2 separate regions of the Homo sapiens genome follow, and region 2 is linked to region 1. A link means that fine-mapping ties the variant in region 1 to the expression of a gene that starts in the linked region. Tissue or cell type: whole blood. Region 1 holds a variant in brackets; the other region holds the start of a gene. All regions are shown on one strand. Distances are between the middles of the regions.

Region 1 (8,111 bases):
TCATGTTATTTTTGCTTAAAGTCCTTAAAAGGCTTTGCGTGGGTCTTAGAATTCAGACATTTCTGCTGTCTACCAGGCGCTGAGTGCGTCCTGGCACAGCCTCCTCTTGGCCTGTTCTCCACCTCATTCTCAGACCTAGTCCTTCTCCAGCCCTTGTGGGTTCCAGTGTCTGTTCCCTTTGTCTTTGAGGCTGCCTTTCCCTTCCTCTCTATGTGAATTCCTCCCATCCTTCGTATCTCACTGCCACTTCTGGGTCTGTCATGTTCCTCTTTGTCAGCGTCCTTAGTGCTATTTGACATTAAATGTTCATTATTGTGATTATATGATTGATGTTACCCTTCTATCCTTGACTTAAAGCTACTGGAGAACACAAAACCTTGTCTGGTTTGGTTCAGTGTATCCTCAGTGGCTAGCCCAGGACCTGGCATGTGGTAGGTGTTAGGTAACTACTACAGAAAAGAATGAATGAGAAATGAGAGCTTCCAATAACTATAAAAGAAAACTACCAGTTTTGCTGACATTAGAAGAGACTGGTCAGGCTGGACAGTTCTTTTTAATTACTGCTTAATGTTGCACATTTACAGAAAATCCCATTTAAAACCAGGCTTAGGATCATGCACTTCAGAGAAGCACTATTGAACAGAAACATAATATGAGCTACACAGATAATTTAAATTTTCCAGTAGCCACATTTTTAGAAGTAGAAGAAATTGATAATTTTAATTTTATATTTTAATTTCCCTAATGGAGTCAAAATATTATCATTTTAATGTTAATATTTCAAAGTTAATAATTTAAAAGTTATTAATGATATTTTAACATTATTTTCTTCTTGGTACAAGGCTTCAAAATCTGGTATTTTAGATTTCAGCATACCTTAATATGAACTAGCCAAATTTCAAGTCCTCAAGAGCCATATGAGGCTGTTTTGACAGTGAATTTGGGACAATTTTATATAGAAGTGAGTTGATGGTAAAGACTTTCAGTGCTTTAGAAAATGAAACCAAATGTTTGGATTGGAACAACAAGAGTTACTGATCATTTAACACCAAGTGCCATGGTCATCAGACTCATTTCTATCTTCCATATGAAGAAACCCTTTTTACAGTGACCCCCTTTAGATGTGACACCCAAAGCATGCATATCTAAGAAAGGTCTTTAGGGGAATAAGAAATTTGTGGCACAGCTTAGACAAATAGCACAAAAAAATTACATTTCTTCCTTTTCTCCTTCCCTGTAAAGAACGGTAAGTATGGGAGGGAGCTCAGTGTCCCCTGGCTTTCTTCCTTGCATGCTTCTCTTCACTTCCAACAGAGGAGATCCGCTGGTGCTCTGCAGGGAGCTCGGGAGGTATACCCAGGAGGGATGAGAGACTGTGTCTGCTGCACAGGCAGCTCAGCCACAACTGAAAACAACAGCTGGCATGTTTTTCTGCAACACTGAGATTGTCTCCGCATTCTAATTTGCCAAACTGTATTCCTTTATTCTTTTGAAATTTGGCTAATTGCTTTCATCTCCTTTAAAACCTTCTTAATCTAGCTTTAGTTATCTAATGTCATCTCTCTCTTTTTTTCTTTCTGCCCTTTCCCATCTCTTTTGCCATTTCACTACTTTCCACAAGACTGCACATGCAGTGAGTTCGAGAACTACTTATGCCTTCTTTGACAACTGCTTAGGAAGTAAATGGCTGGTTTCTCCCTCTACTCCCAACGAAATATCTAGGTATGGATAATAAAAATGCATGTATGGTCATCTTTGTAACTAACATAGAGCATATAAAATAATTGTTTGAGAACATAACAAGAATAAAATATAGATTATTTCATTATCTTTTATGCAGAATTAACTCTTAAATATCAGTAGTTATGATTTTGAAGCAAAAATATATTTGGTCATTTAGTTAGTATGATGTGGAAAGAAGGAGTTAAAGAGTAAAATCCTAGCCAGTGTTTGCCCAGTGGGTAATTGTGTGAACACTTTAATAAGTGCAATAGAAGCCAACCTGAAACTTATTAAGAAGGAGCTAGTTTTGTTTTTTTTTTCCTGAGATTAAAAAAGGAACAAGCTCATCTCTTTTGTTCTGGTTTTAACTTGTTTTTCAAATTTTTCTCAAGGTAGGTCAGAGAAAGGCAAGAAAATATTACCTCATATGCAAAGTAAAATATACGAAGAAAGTAGATGATATTTGAAATATAGCTTAAGTGGGTTATTATAGAATCCTGAAATTAGAGAATTCTATTTTATACACTGCAAATATTTGATCTTAATTTGAGCTCTTTTTGAATTTACTGAGTTGGCCAGTTAGGGAATGATGGCTTTCACTGCATAATCTCAAAGATTTTTTACGAATCCAAATTTCAGTGTCCTGGCTTCTTCTTTATGAAGAGAATGAATACCAGTATTTTGAGAGCTTTGAGGGCAGACACTATAATATTAATTTCCATGACTGGGGAGTATATACACTGGACAGAGCTTAAGAGTTTCTTGTCTGATTAGATGAACTTATCTTTTGACCAAGGGCATCAACAATGATAAGGCAAGTGCGTCAAGGGAGCTAACATAACCCATTTGCTTATGGTCTATTTCATTACATGACTTACCATTTAAGGTAAACAAATAGTCTTTTTCACCCACAGTTTGTCACCCTTTACCAAATAAGATCCATTTAACTCTTGACTTATTTTTACTACAAGACTGAAATTGTAATTCAATTGTTGTTAATGAACATACAAAGCACCATGTAAATAAAAGATAAATTAAATATTATTTAGAGAAAAGCCCAAATGTAGTTGTGATTTACTGTTTTTAAATAGAATTATTTAGTTAGGTTGTAATTTCTATAACAGCTTTAGTGTACTATAATAAATTTGGGAACCTTAAAATATATTTGGCGTTTTTGGATCCCAATTCAGTACATATTTTATATTACCTTCGTGCTTTCTAATTCCCTAGCTCTATGACCTTGGCATAGTCACTTTGCCTCTCTGTGTCTCAGATCCTTCCAAGTAATTGCAACTGCATGTGTACAAAGTTCATTCCAGCTCCTAAGATTTAGGGTTTTGGTTTCAGGTACATTGTAAAGATATGAGTGAAGAGTCCCACAAAAAGGGTACATGCCATTGTCTTTTGTCTTAAAATAAACCTTAGCTGTTGGTATTTTTTTCTTTTCATGTAAACATGGAATTACTGAATCACTGACTGAGCTCTCTGACTGGATCCTGTGAGCTGCACTCTGACACCTACCTCGTTGCAGTAT[AGTAG/A]AATGTCAGGCATCATATTTTATTGTTTAAAAATTCTTATGTAAAATCACCAATTGCTCCTAAATGATCAGGATAGTGACAATTTGGTGTACTATAACTTTTTTTATGGGCAATCATTAGTTCCCCTACTGATTTAATTCCCAAGTAAGAATTGTTTTTCCCCTTTGTATGCTGACGAGTGTTTGTGATGAGTTACACAAACTATGGAAGGGAGAACAGACTCCCTCAGCCTCTGCCAACAGGGAAAGGCCTTGAATGACTGCTTGCTTAGCAGAATAATTATAGCTACTGCCACTCCACTCTCCTTCTTCCCATATACACACACCTTTTAATAGTACCAGGTTAGGACAAGTGTTGTGGGTGTGGACATATGCATGTAAGCAATTGTTAGAGATCTCTTCCCAGGTTTCTTTTTTTTTTTAAATTAAAAGTAAGGTTTATGGAGGTATAATTTAGATATAGTAAAATTTATTCTTTTAAGGTATACGGTTCACTTTTTTTGAAAAAAAAATTGTTGTATAACAAGTAAAATCAAGATATAGAATATTTCTATCACCCTAAAAAGTTTTCTCATACTCTTTTGTAGTCAATTCTTTGCCTCCACCTCCAGCCTCTAGCATCCTATAATTTATCTTTTTTTCAGAAAGTCATATATATGAAATCTTATAGTATGTAGCCTTTTGTGTTTAGGTTCTTTCATTAGTTTAATGATTTTGAATTTCATCCATTTTTTTAAATTGCTGAGTTGTATTTTAATGTATGGATGTACCACACTTTATTCACCAATTAGTTGATATTTTAGTTATTTATGATTTTGGCATTTATGAATAAAGGTTCTACAAATATATATTTAGGTTTCACGTGGACATATGTTTCATTTCTCTTAGCCAGTCCTGAGTCATAAGGTAAGTGTATGTGTAACTTTATAAGACACTGCCAAACTGTTTCAGAGTAGCTGTACCATATTGTATTCCCACCAGCAATGCCTGAGAATTCCAGTTGTGCTGAGTTTTTGCCAGCCTTTGATATTGATTGTTTGTTTATATATTTATTTTTAATTTAAGCCATTCTACTAGGTCCAAATTCCCTTTGATATCTCCATAATGATGTTCTAGGCATCTCCATGGCCTGTGAAAGCCTTCTTTTCTCTTGTTAGGAAGGCAGTTTGGCCAAATGTTTTATTAGGTCCTGAACATTTGCTTCTGTGAAATCAAGTTCTCCATCAAGTGGAACATGACTATAGGAGTCAGGTGAATTGAACTGCCTTTTGTCAGCAGGCTGGTTGGTTAGAACATGATACTAATGGCTTTTCAGGTTTAGTAAAATTAAGTCTGTTCCACAGCCAGAGATCACTCCCATATCCCATATAACTACTCCACAACTTGAGCCTTTACTAACAAAGAAATCCAAAGAACAAGGTAAATGCTTCAGTGGAAATTATCAGCACAGAAAAATCCTAAGCCACATATTCAGTTATTGCTCAAACAACCTCCTACAAAATAAGGAGGGGAGTCAGGCTAAACAACAACAGGCTAAAGAAATTTTAATTGAAATGTCACTTTCACTATTAAACAAAAAAGCCATCACTGTGATTGTGATAAAAGTTGATGGTGTCCTGTTTCTTTGTGTGAAATTGCTTTTCTCTCATCACTGACTTAATTTGATTGCACCAGTTTGTCAGCTGTCACATTTGGCTTCCCTCAGTTGCAAAATATAGATAATGACAGTCTAAGCAATTTAACAGTTATGTGTCAACATTTTACTTCTTCTAATCAAGATAAACTAAGAATTATCCCCCCCACCCCATAACTTTGACATAATAAAAAAGTTCAAGGCTTTCTTTTTCCTTTTTGTCTGTCTTGTATTTTACAGGTGGCTTGTCTAATATCTTGCATTTTCGTCCTTATAGTCATCTATGCAATAGGACCTTTGCTTTACTGGCTGCCCATGGTACGGTAGTGCTTTTTCACTATCTACTTTTTAATTTAACTTTTCATGAGAATCATTGCATATAAAATTTCTTGGAAGTATAACCTCAACAATCCTAAATGTAGAAACCATGTTACAGAAGTAAAGTTTGAATGGGGGAGGTGTGGAAAGCTACCACATTTGAGGCAGGCGTGGGAGGGGGTACCGTGGCTGTTTTTTTTTACGTTTTTGGCTCTCACATAAGAATGGTATTGTGGAACTAGATTCATTCTGTGCTCATCTGGAGAGTGGAACTAGGCATATTCTGTTATAAGAAGTATAAATTTTACTAAAACTTTGACTGTTAGAAAAACATATGTGCTGGGGCAAGGAAATAGGAAACAAAATACAGCTTCCTGCTGTTGATATATCTGTTACACAAAGTGATTCAGAACATTAGTGCCAGTGCTTCACCTTCTTCTTCATAAGCCTGAGGCACTAAAGGAATGCAAAACACTGGGCTTATGAGAGCCAGTCTCCATCCTTTGTTATTCTAATTTTTCATGTGTGTAGTGAGAATAAACCATTTCCATGGTAGGATCTTCCAATAATCAAGTTCGCTTTTCAAGAGAGTTATAAATATCTTCAGGTGAAATCAGATAATTGACATTTAAGGCAATTATAAGAAAATATATGATATACATATTTAATTTCATGCAACAAATACTTTTCAAACAAATGACCGTGAATACGTTTAGTTAAGAGGGCATTTAGCTTCATGATGTTCACCCTTACCATTTACTTATTTTCTTTTTGCTCTTGTTGTTTAGAATTGTACAAATATTACCTTATGAATTCTAGAATATATATTATATTCCTAAAGTGCAATAATAGGTTAGTTTTAAACAAAATAAATATTGCTTTTGTCTTCTAATCGGTGATTGCTTTTCTCTATTAAGTACTTTAAAAACAAAAAAATAAAAATACCTTAGCCCTTTTAAATTTAAGTTAAAATTTTTATGTTGCTTCTTCTTCAACTTACGTTTTATTTCTAGTGTGTCCTTGCAAGCATTATTGTTGTGGGACTGAAGGGAATGCTAATACAGTTCCGAGATTTAAAAAAATATTGGAATGTGGATAAAATCGATTGGGTAAGTAGAAATTTGACCTAAAACAATCCCTTTTTAGCTTAAGCTTATGTTACCAAATATGCACTAATACTTTTATTTGCAGAAAATAGATATTGTCATTTGAGACTTGTACACTTTACAAACTACCATTTTTTTTCCAAAATCTTAATAAAAGCATTAAAATATAAATTGTCTTCATATGAAACAGAAATAAGAGTTTGGTCAAATTTTGATGAATGTATAGTTTGAGAACTTTTAAAGAAATGCTAATAATTTCAGTGGATTTGGGATGCCCAATTTACAATATGAATTAATTTTGGAAGTAAGACTTACCAGGGAAATAGACACTAATAGAAATATGGCAATTTATAACCTTTATGAAAAACTATCATGAATCACTAAGAATGCACGCTGCGCGCATATAGGGTGAACCTCTTAATGGTGACCACTGTCATTCTAAATACAAAAGGTCTCATGAATTGCCTTTTAAATGGGTTACATTAAGAGGACCATGCTTGAAACAGATTAAAATATATTGAACCATGATAAAGTGTGATTTCTACGAACATAAATAGCACACTGATTCTAGAGAAACCTATCTATGCAAGAGCAATCCAGAATTCTCTCCCTCTCCAATATGGGAGAAGTACTTCATGAGTACCCTCTGTTTAGCTCTATTATGACAGTCACCATATTGGAATATAATTATTAATATGAAATACATATTTTCTCTTCTTCAGATCATTTTCTCTGAGAGGTTTTGGGATATTATTTATGCTGGTGCCTACTTTTGTAATATTCCTCCTGGGGCTCAATATTACTGAGCTCCCACCAAAGTATAATGCTGGGCACCATGAGGAATGTGCAGATGAAAAAAGAACTATCCAGTCTCTCTAGACAGTTATTTGTGGAGGCAGTGGACATAGAAACACTAAATTATCATGCAAGACAGGATACAACATGACCTGGAAGGAAAAGTAAGAGCTTAGTTTTGGGGAAAATAGAGGCAGAAGCATTTAATTTGGACTGATTAACATGAAAGACTCTCACAGAAGAGCTGAAATATGAACTGAGACTTGAAGGAACAGTATTTTGTAGGCAGAACAAAAGGCCAAAATTAACCATGACCTTTTAAAGGTGATACATGTTAGGTGGCTCATGAAAACAAAGAAATGAGAAGATGCAAACTTACTCAACAAGCTACTTGATAACCCTATGGTTAAGTTATTTCTAAGGAACTCATTGATCATATAGGAGGCAGCATGTTACCATATTGGAAAGGGTAGAGAAGATGTCAAGTAAGATTTCTATTAGGAAGTTGAGAATTGAAGAATTGCATTACCTGGAGAAGAAACAAAGAGAATCTCATATGCAAAGATACAGAGATGAGTGTGAACATGTCTGTCTCTGAAAAAATCAAGGTATTTGGCATGGGTAGAACATATAATGTGAGGATGGGAGTAGTGACAGATGATGTGGAAAAGTTAAGAATGGGTTGGATTGGGCAAGGCAACTCAAGTTTTACAAAGATGACTTGATTTCATTATGAAGGCAGTGAAACATCACTGAAAGGTGAAATAAGAATAAAATGTATGTATTAGAAAGGTCACTTGAGTAGTTTGAGGAAGATGGATCAAACTGGTGAAGTATACAGGAACTGGAGCACTGCTTTAGCCCTTCAGGCATATAAATGAGGAAGACCTAGACCAAGGCTGAGACCATGAAGTACAAGAAAGAATCAGATGAAAAATATTAAAGATATTGTATTTGTTAGTCCTCACCACCAGTTCATTATATAATGTGGATCAGTTGG
Region 2 (8,111 bases), 310 kb before region 1:
AATCCATCATCAAGCCCTGTTCAATCCACCTCCTTAACATCATCCTTCATCTCTCCATCTCTACCACCACCTGAGTCCAAGCTACTGAAATAGTTCAGTTAAATTGCCCGAATTATTACAATAATCAAGGAAGTCATCTATTCTTGTCTACTCTAGCCAATCCTCTAATTCATTCTCTAATCTATAGAGTGGTTTAAAAACTAATAATAAAGATTTAATCCAGTCATCCCTTTGCTTATGGCAATATTCCTTAACATGACCAACAATATCCTGGATGGGCTGATTCATATTCATTATTCTGGTCATCTGTTGCTGCAGAACAAGTTGGCCACATGTGGTTGTAGTAAGAATTTGGCTAAGGCTGGAGTCATGTGAAGGCTCAATTGAGCTTGGCATCCAAGATGGCATCTCCCTTCACATGTCTGAGGGCTGGTCAGGCATCTTTCTCTCTACCAGGCTAGTTTCAGGTTCCATAAAGCATGGCAGTCTCAGAGTGTTCCACTTCTTACATGACAAGTTACTTTCCCCAGAGTGTACTTTACAAAAGACCAAGATAAAAGCTGTAAAACCTCTTCTGACCTACCCTCCAAAGTCATTCAGCATATTTTCTACCTTATTCTAGAGGTCAAAATCAAGTCATGGCATCAGCCCAGATTCAAGGGGAGGAAACTGAATATCAGAAGACATAGTTCTTTGAAGGGGAAAGAGAGTCTTCGGAGAATATCCACCATACCTATCTCTCCAGTCCCATTTTGCAGTGCATTTCCTACTGCTGTTTCCATTTTAGCCACGTTGGCCTTCCTTAAGTTCCTTGTATTTGTCATACTCCACCCTGCTGATCACTTTGCCAATACTGCTTTCTTTGCCTATAATGGTCTTCCAGTCCACCTTTTGCCAAGTTAACTCTTGCTCAACTTTCAGATCTCATTCAAGCATCAAGAAAGCCTTCCCCGACTCCCTCAACAAAATTAAATCTTAATTTATACTCTCAAGGTATTGCATATATTTCCAGCACTGTCTTCATCACCATTGCATTTTGCATCTGTTTGTGTGATTACATAATTTATTTCTCAATACCCCCACTACACTGGAAGAGGAGCCATGACTATTTTTCTTCTCCTACCACAGATTTGGCTGGTACTCAAATATTTATTTGCTGAATAATAAACTAAGTAAATCAAACTGTCTGCCTCTGTATAACAAATTATTATTTTCCCTTTATGAATTATAGTGAAGTATATAATCCCATTTCCATATTGAATACATAATGAGACAACCCCAGATATAAACAATTTTCACAGAAAAAATCTTATAAATTCAAAGGTCATATTCTTTTGTTATATCCTAACTACAAAATTAGCAGATGTATAAAGGAATCAATTAATACATCAAAACTGTGTAAATTTTGTGGTATTTCTTCCAATCTCCTTTCAGATGAGCCTAAAACTCTCTTTAATTTTAATTTCTATACCTAAACAAAAACTGGCAAGTATATTAAACGAAGCACTGCAAGCAGGAGAGAAGCAATTTCCTATGCATGAATCCAATACTGACAGTAGAGAACACTAGACATGCTCCACTTAGAAACCAACATGGATTGTTACACAGACCACACATGATTTTTCTTGTGCTAAAACCAAACACACAATACTAACTGCTCCCTGCTACATTATTAATAATCTGTCTAGAAATAAACACTCCACCGACTTTCAACCTGAAATGGACTATTTCATCTTGGAGGTGGGAACTAACATTCCTGTACTTTAGAAGGTAAAAGAAAGAGAAAGGGGTCAGATTGGAGAAAATATTCACTAGTTATAGCTTTTAACTTCTTTTTTTAAAAAAATAAAAGTCTGAATAATTGTAAATGGGATCATTAACTAAAATTCATTATCAGAAAGTGCATTCTGTTTCTGATTGAATTCCAACTGTCAACCCTAACGGTTTTCAACTACCAAAAACATCTGATCTAGTGATAGAATTTTTTTTACAATCTGAAATAATTCAGCCATGTATTTATTTATTCTTTCTCCCTAATACAATATAGTCTTCATGAGGGTATGGGATTGATCACTCTTGTTCCCCTAGAGCAGTGTATGGCACATTGTGCTTCCCAATAAATTAATAAATGAATGAATAGTGGTGGTCTTCCAGATCTTGTGTATTACTCATAATATTTATTACAATGTTTGTTACTTATGAAGAAAAATATTCTGTCAAAATGCAAATAAAATGCTTTTACCTCTCATTTATGCTTCTTCCTTAGTAGGTGTTATGTCATATGAAATTAAGAGTTTCTCTAATCATCTAACCTGTCTCATTCACCAATTAAGAAAAAATGTATTCTACCATAAGGCAGAAGCAGCTTTTTGCTAAGTCATTGAATTTCTCTGGTTGTTAAAAGTTTTCTACAATGACACTACTTTTTCTCAGTGGCTGAACTGGAACTTATACTTGTGTAGTTTGAGGAATCTTATTAGGTTAAACAAATATATGGAAAATAATAAAGATGTCTATAAGCTGATCCCTGAGTGTAGCCATTTTTAAAAAATAACTTATCCACTAGTTGAGGGCATGAAAATAGGTTATAGGACAAATACTTAAATTGAAACTTTGTCTCCTAATAAACCGCCAAACATTTTGCCATAAAAGGCTGACTTGATGAAGTTGAAACATTCATTAGTGAGTGTTTAAGTCTATTCTACATAATACGATTTAGATAACAGTAAAATATTCATATCAAATTGGCCCATTAGAGGAAATTCTCTTGCCTGGTGTCCTCTGATACAAGTTTAATGCTGACCAACAAAAATGACCTGTAGGTTTTCTGTGGGCAAGTCTCTCTCTGTGCCTTATTTCTCAAGCCATGGCTCACACTGAATTATTTACAGCTAAGCATCTTTTTCCTTTGTTTTTCTTCTTGTTAAGTATGGATTAAGATCTAGATAGTTTATTTTGAAGTTACAAAATGTTAAATAGAAATTTTAAATACTAAGCAAGTTCAACCTGCTCTACATCAGCTCTAATTCCAGACTTGAACTTAAAAACTTGTATTACAAGAAACATTACCTACTTATATTTTCAAAATCATTAACTTTTGCTTCCTTGGGTTTTTAAACTTTGCTCATATTTAGCCAAAAAAAGAGAGAGATGCACTTAAGGAACATTTGCAAGTGCCATTTTGACCAATCTTTTCACTAACCTAAGTGGGTTTTTTTAAGTCTTGCCTTCCATTTTCTTGTAACGCCTGACTCCACCTTATTTATTTACTATAGTAATCAACTAAAAGGCTTAGAACAACGATCGATTTTTAAATAAATCGAATAGTATGGTAAATAGATTCCATATTTCTCCAGATCCCATTGCATTTAATCTTTTTTTATTCTTCTTGAGAAAAAAATAGAAATATATGTATTATTAATTTGGGTTACTTTTTACAAGTTAATTTCAATCTCACCCAGATATGTGTTAAAAATATCCCATCTTCCCTTCTATGAGAAGTAAGGTCCTTCCTTCTCATTCACAATTAAATCTAACACATACTCCTTGAAAGTAGGAGTAAAAAGGAGGGGCAGGAATTTCAGACATATTAGGAATATTGATTAACTGTATTCATTTTGGATATGGCAATTCACTGAGTGAACAGAGCACTGTTGGGTGAATGGTAGCAGAAGCATATTGTTCAAGCTAAAGCCCTTTCAAGGACAGATGCCAAGGTGAGCAATACTCCTGGTTTCTCAGCAACGGAAAAAGATTTGTGAATGATTGTGAAAGATTTGCACCACCTCCTAGCTGCGCTTAGGGGCTGTTCTGAAAACAGCTAAGCAGAGCTTGGGAAATTCATGTCACATACTGTAGCCCTGGGTAAGAAGTGGTGAAATACACACACACACCATCACCACCACCACCACCACCACCATCACCACCACCACCACCACCACCATCACCACCACCACCAGAAAAACCCTGCGGAGAAGCTATCAGGCAGGCGGGCTTGCCTGGGAAGGCACAGTCAGCATCCTTCCTCAGCCCAAGCGAGAGGCTCACCTCCACCTCCAAGCTAGAGCTCCCAGGTCTTTATCCTTCTGGGCGTTTCCTTGCAAATCTACTTCCTTGCAAAGTAGAGGGATCTACGCTGGCCTTACCTCTGGGGCTGCTTTCTTGCAAGTACGGTGGGGCGGTGGGAGTGACATTTCCGGAGTGGGATGCTGACAGCAGAGGCGAGCGTTCGTCCACCCCATCAGCAGCCATGACTGCGGCAGCGGCGGGGCCTGGGGAGGCCGAGCCGGGGTTGCGGCCTCGGCGGAGTGGTGGCTACTGCTGCTGCCTCTGCTGCCGCTGCTGCCGCTGCAGCTGCTGCTGCTGCCGCCTCCGGGAGGGCCCGGGATGTGTCACAAGGCAGGAAGCGGGGGGAGGGGAGGGGAGGGTGCAGGACCAGGAGGCGGGGGAAGGGAAGCGCGCTGGGAGGCATGGCTGGGGGAGGGGAGGGGAGGGAGAAAGAAAGAACCCGCAGAGTGGGAGGAGCAGCAGTGGAGGAGCGGGAGCCCAGCCAGCCAGAGAAAAGGGGAACAAATTAGGACCAACTGGGAAACGCGAGGAAAAGAAGATGCCAAGTAACTGAAAGGGGGTCGAGAGTAAATGGGATGGAGGGGGACAAGTCCTTTGCTCTAGGAAAGACGGATAAAAAGCAGCCTGAAAGGGGCTAGCGAAGAGGAAAGGCCTGTGACTTGATTACAAGAAAACTGGAGCAAAAGCAGATTATCAAGTTTATCTCCCCTAAGGAGGAGGAGGGACTGACTCTTTGCTGTCAAACTTTGCAGCAGTTATATAAAGAAAACATCTTCCTGGGGTTATCAATTCCTCTAGGGTTTTTTTGTGGGAAATCAGTTTTCAACATCTGTTATCTAAGAGAAAGTAGATCTTTGCGGAAGTGTCAGCATTCCCTACTTTTCCTGATTGATTTTTTTTAACAACAGGAATGTTGGCCTGACCGGTTTGGAACTCTGGTAACAGTACCTTTTTGGAACTATGCAGTGTGTTGCCTTTTACAAGTTTCATTTTACAAAATAGGTTGTCATCTTAGTTTTGGTTTTGTAGCCTATTGTCCCTGACACATATACAGTAAGTAGGTTTATGAATAACGTCAAACAACGAAAAACAAGTTTCTTGAGACAAAAGTTTTAAAATAATCGTTTACTTGTAAAACAGAGTTAAAACACAAAAAACCCTAAGCACTGACAAAGATTCTTTGCTTGGTCAAACAAGTAAGGTTTCTGAATCTTATGCTGGGCCCATCTGCACTTCCTTATAAAATCCAGTTTTAGCAAAGAACCCTACTAACTTAATTTAGCAAGAAGCCCCATTCTCAATATTGATATTTGATCAGGTTCCTCATCCTCCAGCATCCCCCATGTGAGGCCTGAACTCCTGTTCTGTCTTCAGCAAGAATCCCGTTTGCTTGGTTTAGTCAGAATCCCCCTTATCCCTGATATTTCCTTGGTAATTTTCCATCTACTGCCCCTGTCCTGCATGCTCCTAGGCTATAAATTCCCACTTGTCCATGCTGCATTCAGAATTGAGCCTAATCTCTTCTTCAACATGGCAAGACCCTGCTGCCATGGTCCCTATACCTATCACTATAGCCCTAAATACAGTCTTCCTTACCATGCTTTGACAAGAATCACTGAATAACTTTTTTCTTTAAAAACACAGTTCTTGCCATGTTTTATATGTTTTTCTTTTCTTTTTTATTTGGTGGTTTGTCATATTATCCAAAAGTAGTTTACATGAATATGAAAACAAATTAAAGTTTTGAGGCCAGGCGTGGTGGCTCACGCCTGTAATCCCAGCACTTTGGGAGTCCAAGGCAGGCAGATCACCTGAGGTCAGGAGTTCGAGATCAGCCTAACCAACATGGAGAAACCCCATCTCTACTAAAAATACAAAATTAGCGAGGCGTGCTGGCGCATGCCTGTAATCCCAGCTACTCGGGAGGCCGAGGCAGGAGAATCACTTGAATCCGGGAGGCAGAGGTAGAGGTGAGCTGAGATCGTGCCGTTGCACTCCAGCCTGGGCAACAAGAGTGAAACTCCGTCTCAAAAAAAAAAAAATAAATAAAGTTTTGAACATGTCTAAATAAAAATGCAATAGAAAAATAGTAATGATCTAGGATGATAATTTTTCTGCAATAATTTTTGAGTCACTCAAAAGAAACATTTATTACTCATTTACTAAGTCTAAAAGATAACTACGACATGATCTCAATCCTCAAGATGCCTGAGAGAGTCAAAAACAAGTGGAAAATGAGGCTAGCTGTAGATTTCAGTGAGCATGAGGCAAAGCAGAAGTTAGACATACGAAACTATGTTTCAAATTACATTAGGAAGGATCCTCACTCTGCTTTCTAAAGATACATTCTTTCTTCCAGAAAAATCCACTTAGGCATCAGCTGGAAATCCTAAGGGGAAATCAAATAATGATGTTTGCACTCACGCAGCATCTTTTGTGGATCAGTAGCATCAGGATACAATACAATATAAGGATCCCTATATGATATAAGGGCATTTCTAGGTCTCCAGGAACCTGGAAAGTACAGAATCAAGATGTAGCACTTCCTGCAAAAGTGCCTGTAATTTACAAAAATGAACAGCAGTGTTTTTATAACTGCAGCCTGGAGACTATTGAGTTAAAGAAAATTATGAGAAAAATCAACAAAATCTTACTACTATAGTATTCTGTCGTGTTACCTGTCACACTCCATTGTGACAACTCCAGCCCCAACCAAATTTCTGAGGTCAGAAACCTATCTATCTTATTTATAACTAGATCTCCAGTATCTAGCACAATGCTTGGCACATTAGTAAACACTCGATATTTGTCAAATAAACAATTGAGTGAATGAACAAATATACACAGTCCCAGAATCTTACTAAAACAAAATGTTTGGCACAAAAAGATTAAGAACATTTCTTGGCATTTTGATGAAGATGACAGTTTTGCCATCTGACTGATCAATTTTTTTATTCCATCATACCTCTACAACTGTCTTCTTTTTTGCCCATGTAGTGATCAGTATAAAGGTTTTTTTTTTGTTGTTGTTTGTTTTTTTCTTTACTTCATTATATGGTTTCTCTACTGCAGAACTCATTTGAGGCTCATGACAGTTACTCTTCTTACACTACAAAAGGTAGTAGATATACTGAGATTATATTTGCAGCAATCTCAACTTCCACAAAAAGCAAAAGGCTTTTATGAGATGAGTACTACTTCATTCTAGGTTAAAGATCATACTATGGTTTATGGTTTCTCAATAGTTGTTAAATAATACTCATCAATCCAAGGTATTTTTATGATTATGATTATGATACTTTGCCATCTCTATTCATGAGATGAGCTAATGTGTCTATTGGAATAAAAATACTCTATAAACAGATAATATGTGAGATCTAATGTACTTAAGCTGTTGTTTCAGCGATCTACTGCTAACAAACCATACCAATACTCAGTGGCTTAAAACAACATGAGTTGTTATTTTCTATGATTCTGTAGTTGACTGGGTGGCCATTCTGTCAGACTTGCCTGAACATTCAGGCAGCAGCATTCAGCTGGCAGGTTTGCTGGGGGCTAGGCTCAGCTGGGAAATTTGGGCTCACTGGGCAATTCTCTTCATGTAGTCTTTATTCCAGACTTCCTCATATACCTCGTATTCTCAGAACACTATTCTAAGAGGATGATGGTGGAAGGTAAGGGATCCCTAAGATCTAGGCTCTGGTTCTCAAACATCGCTTCTTATCACATTCTCCCACCATCAATGGCTTTCTCAGCCTGCCTCCTGCTTGGAAAAAAACAAGCACCTAGAGGCCTCGTCATGATCAAAGGAAGTCACAAGGCTGGTGGAGGAACAGATTCCATCACTTCAAGTGAAGAGTAGCAATGTCACAATGCAAAGGGGTGTGGAACACAACAAGGCATGATCCACTGGATGCTATTATATAACAGTCTACCATAGTCTGCCCACTGGTCACTGTGGTTCACATCCCCCTCACAGGCAAACTACACTTATCCACTCCCAACACCCCAAAGTCTAGTTTAATCACTAAAGTCAACTTTAT

What was found. PIP is the estimated chance that this variant, and not a neighbour inherited with it, causes the effect.
Region 2: it holds the start of PIP4P2, and the variant in region 1 is fine-mapped to the expression of PIP4P2 in whole blood (INTERVAL, PIP 0.98).

What each region holds. Positions count from the first base shown.
Region 1 is chr8:91,346,678-91,354,788 of GRCh38, forward strand. SLC26A7 (solute carrier family 26 member 7) reads left to right here. Exons shown (of 19, transcript NM_052832.4): 10 at 5,133-5,210; 11 at 6,224-6,319. Among named protein-coding and RNA genes, the nearest start is that of SLC26A7, 100 kb to the left of the region's middle. The variant AGTAG/A (reference allele first, on the strand shown) is at 3,257.
Region 2 is chr8:91,036,499-91,044,609 of GRCh38, forward strand. PIP4P2 (phosphatidylinositol-4,5-bisphosphate 4-phosphatase 2) reads right to left here and starts at 4,361. Exons shown (of 7, transcript NM_018710.3): 1 at 4,146-4,361. The coding sequence starts at 4,251. RefSeq lists a silencer at 4,383-4,582.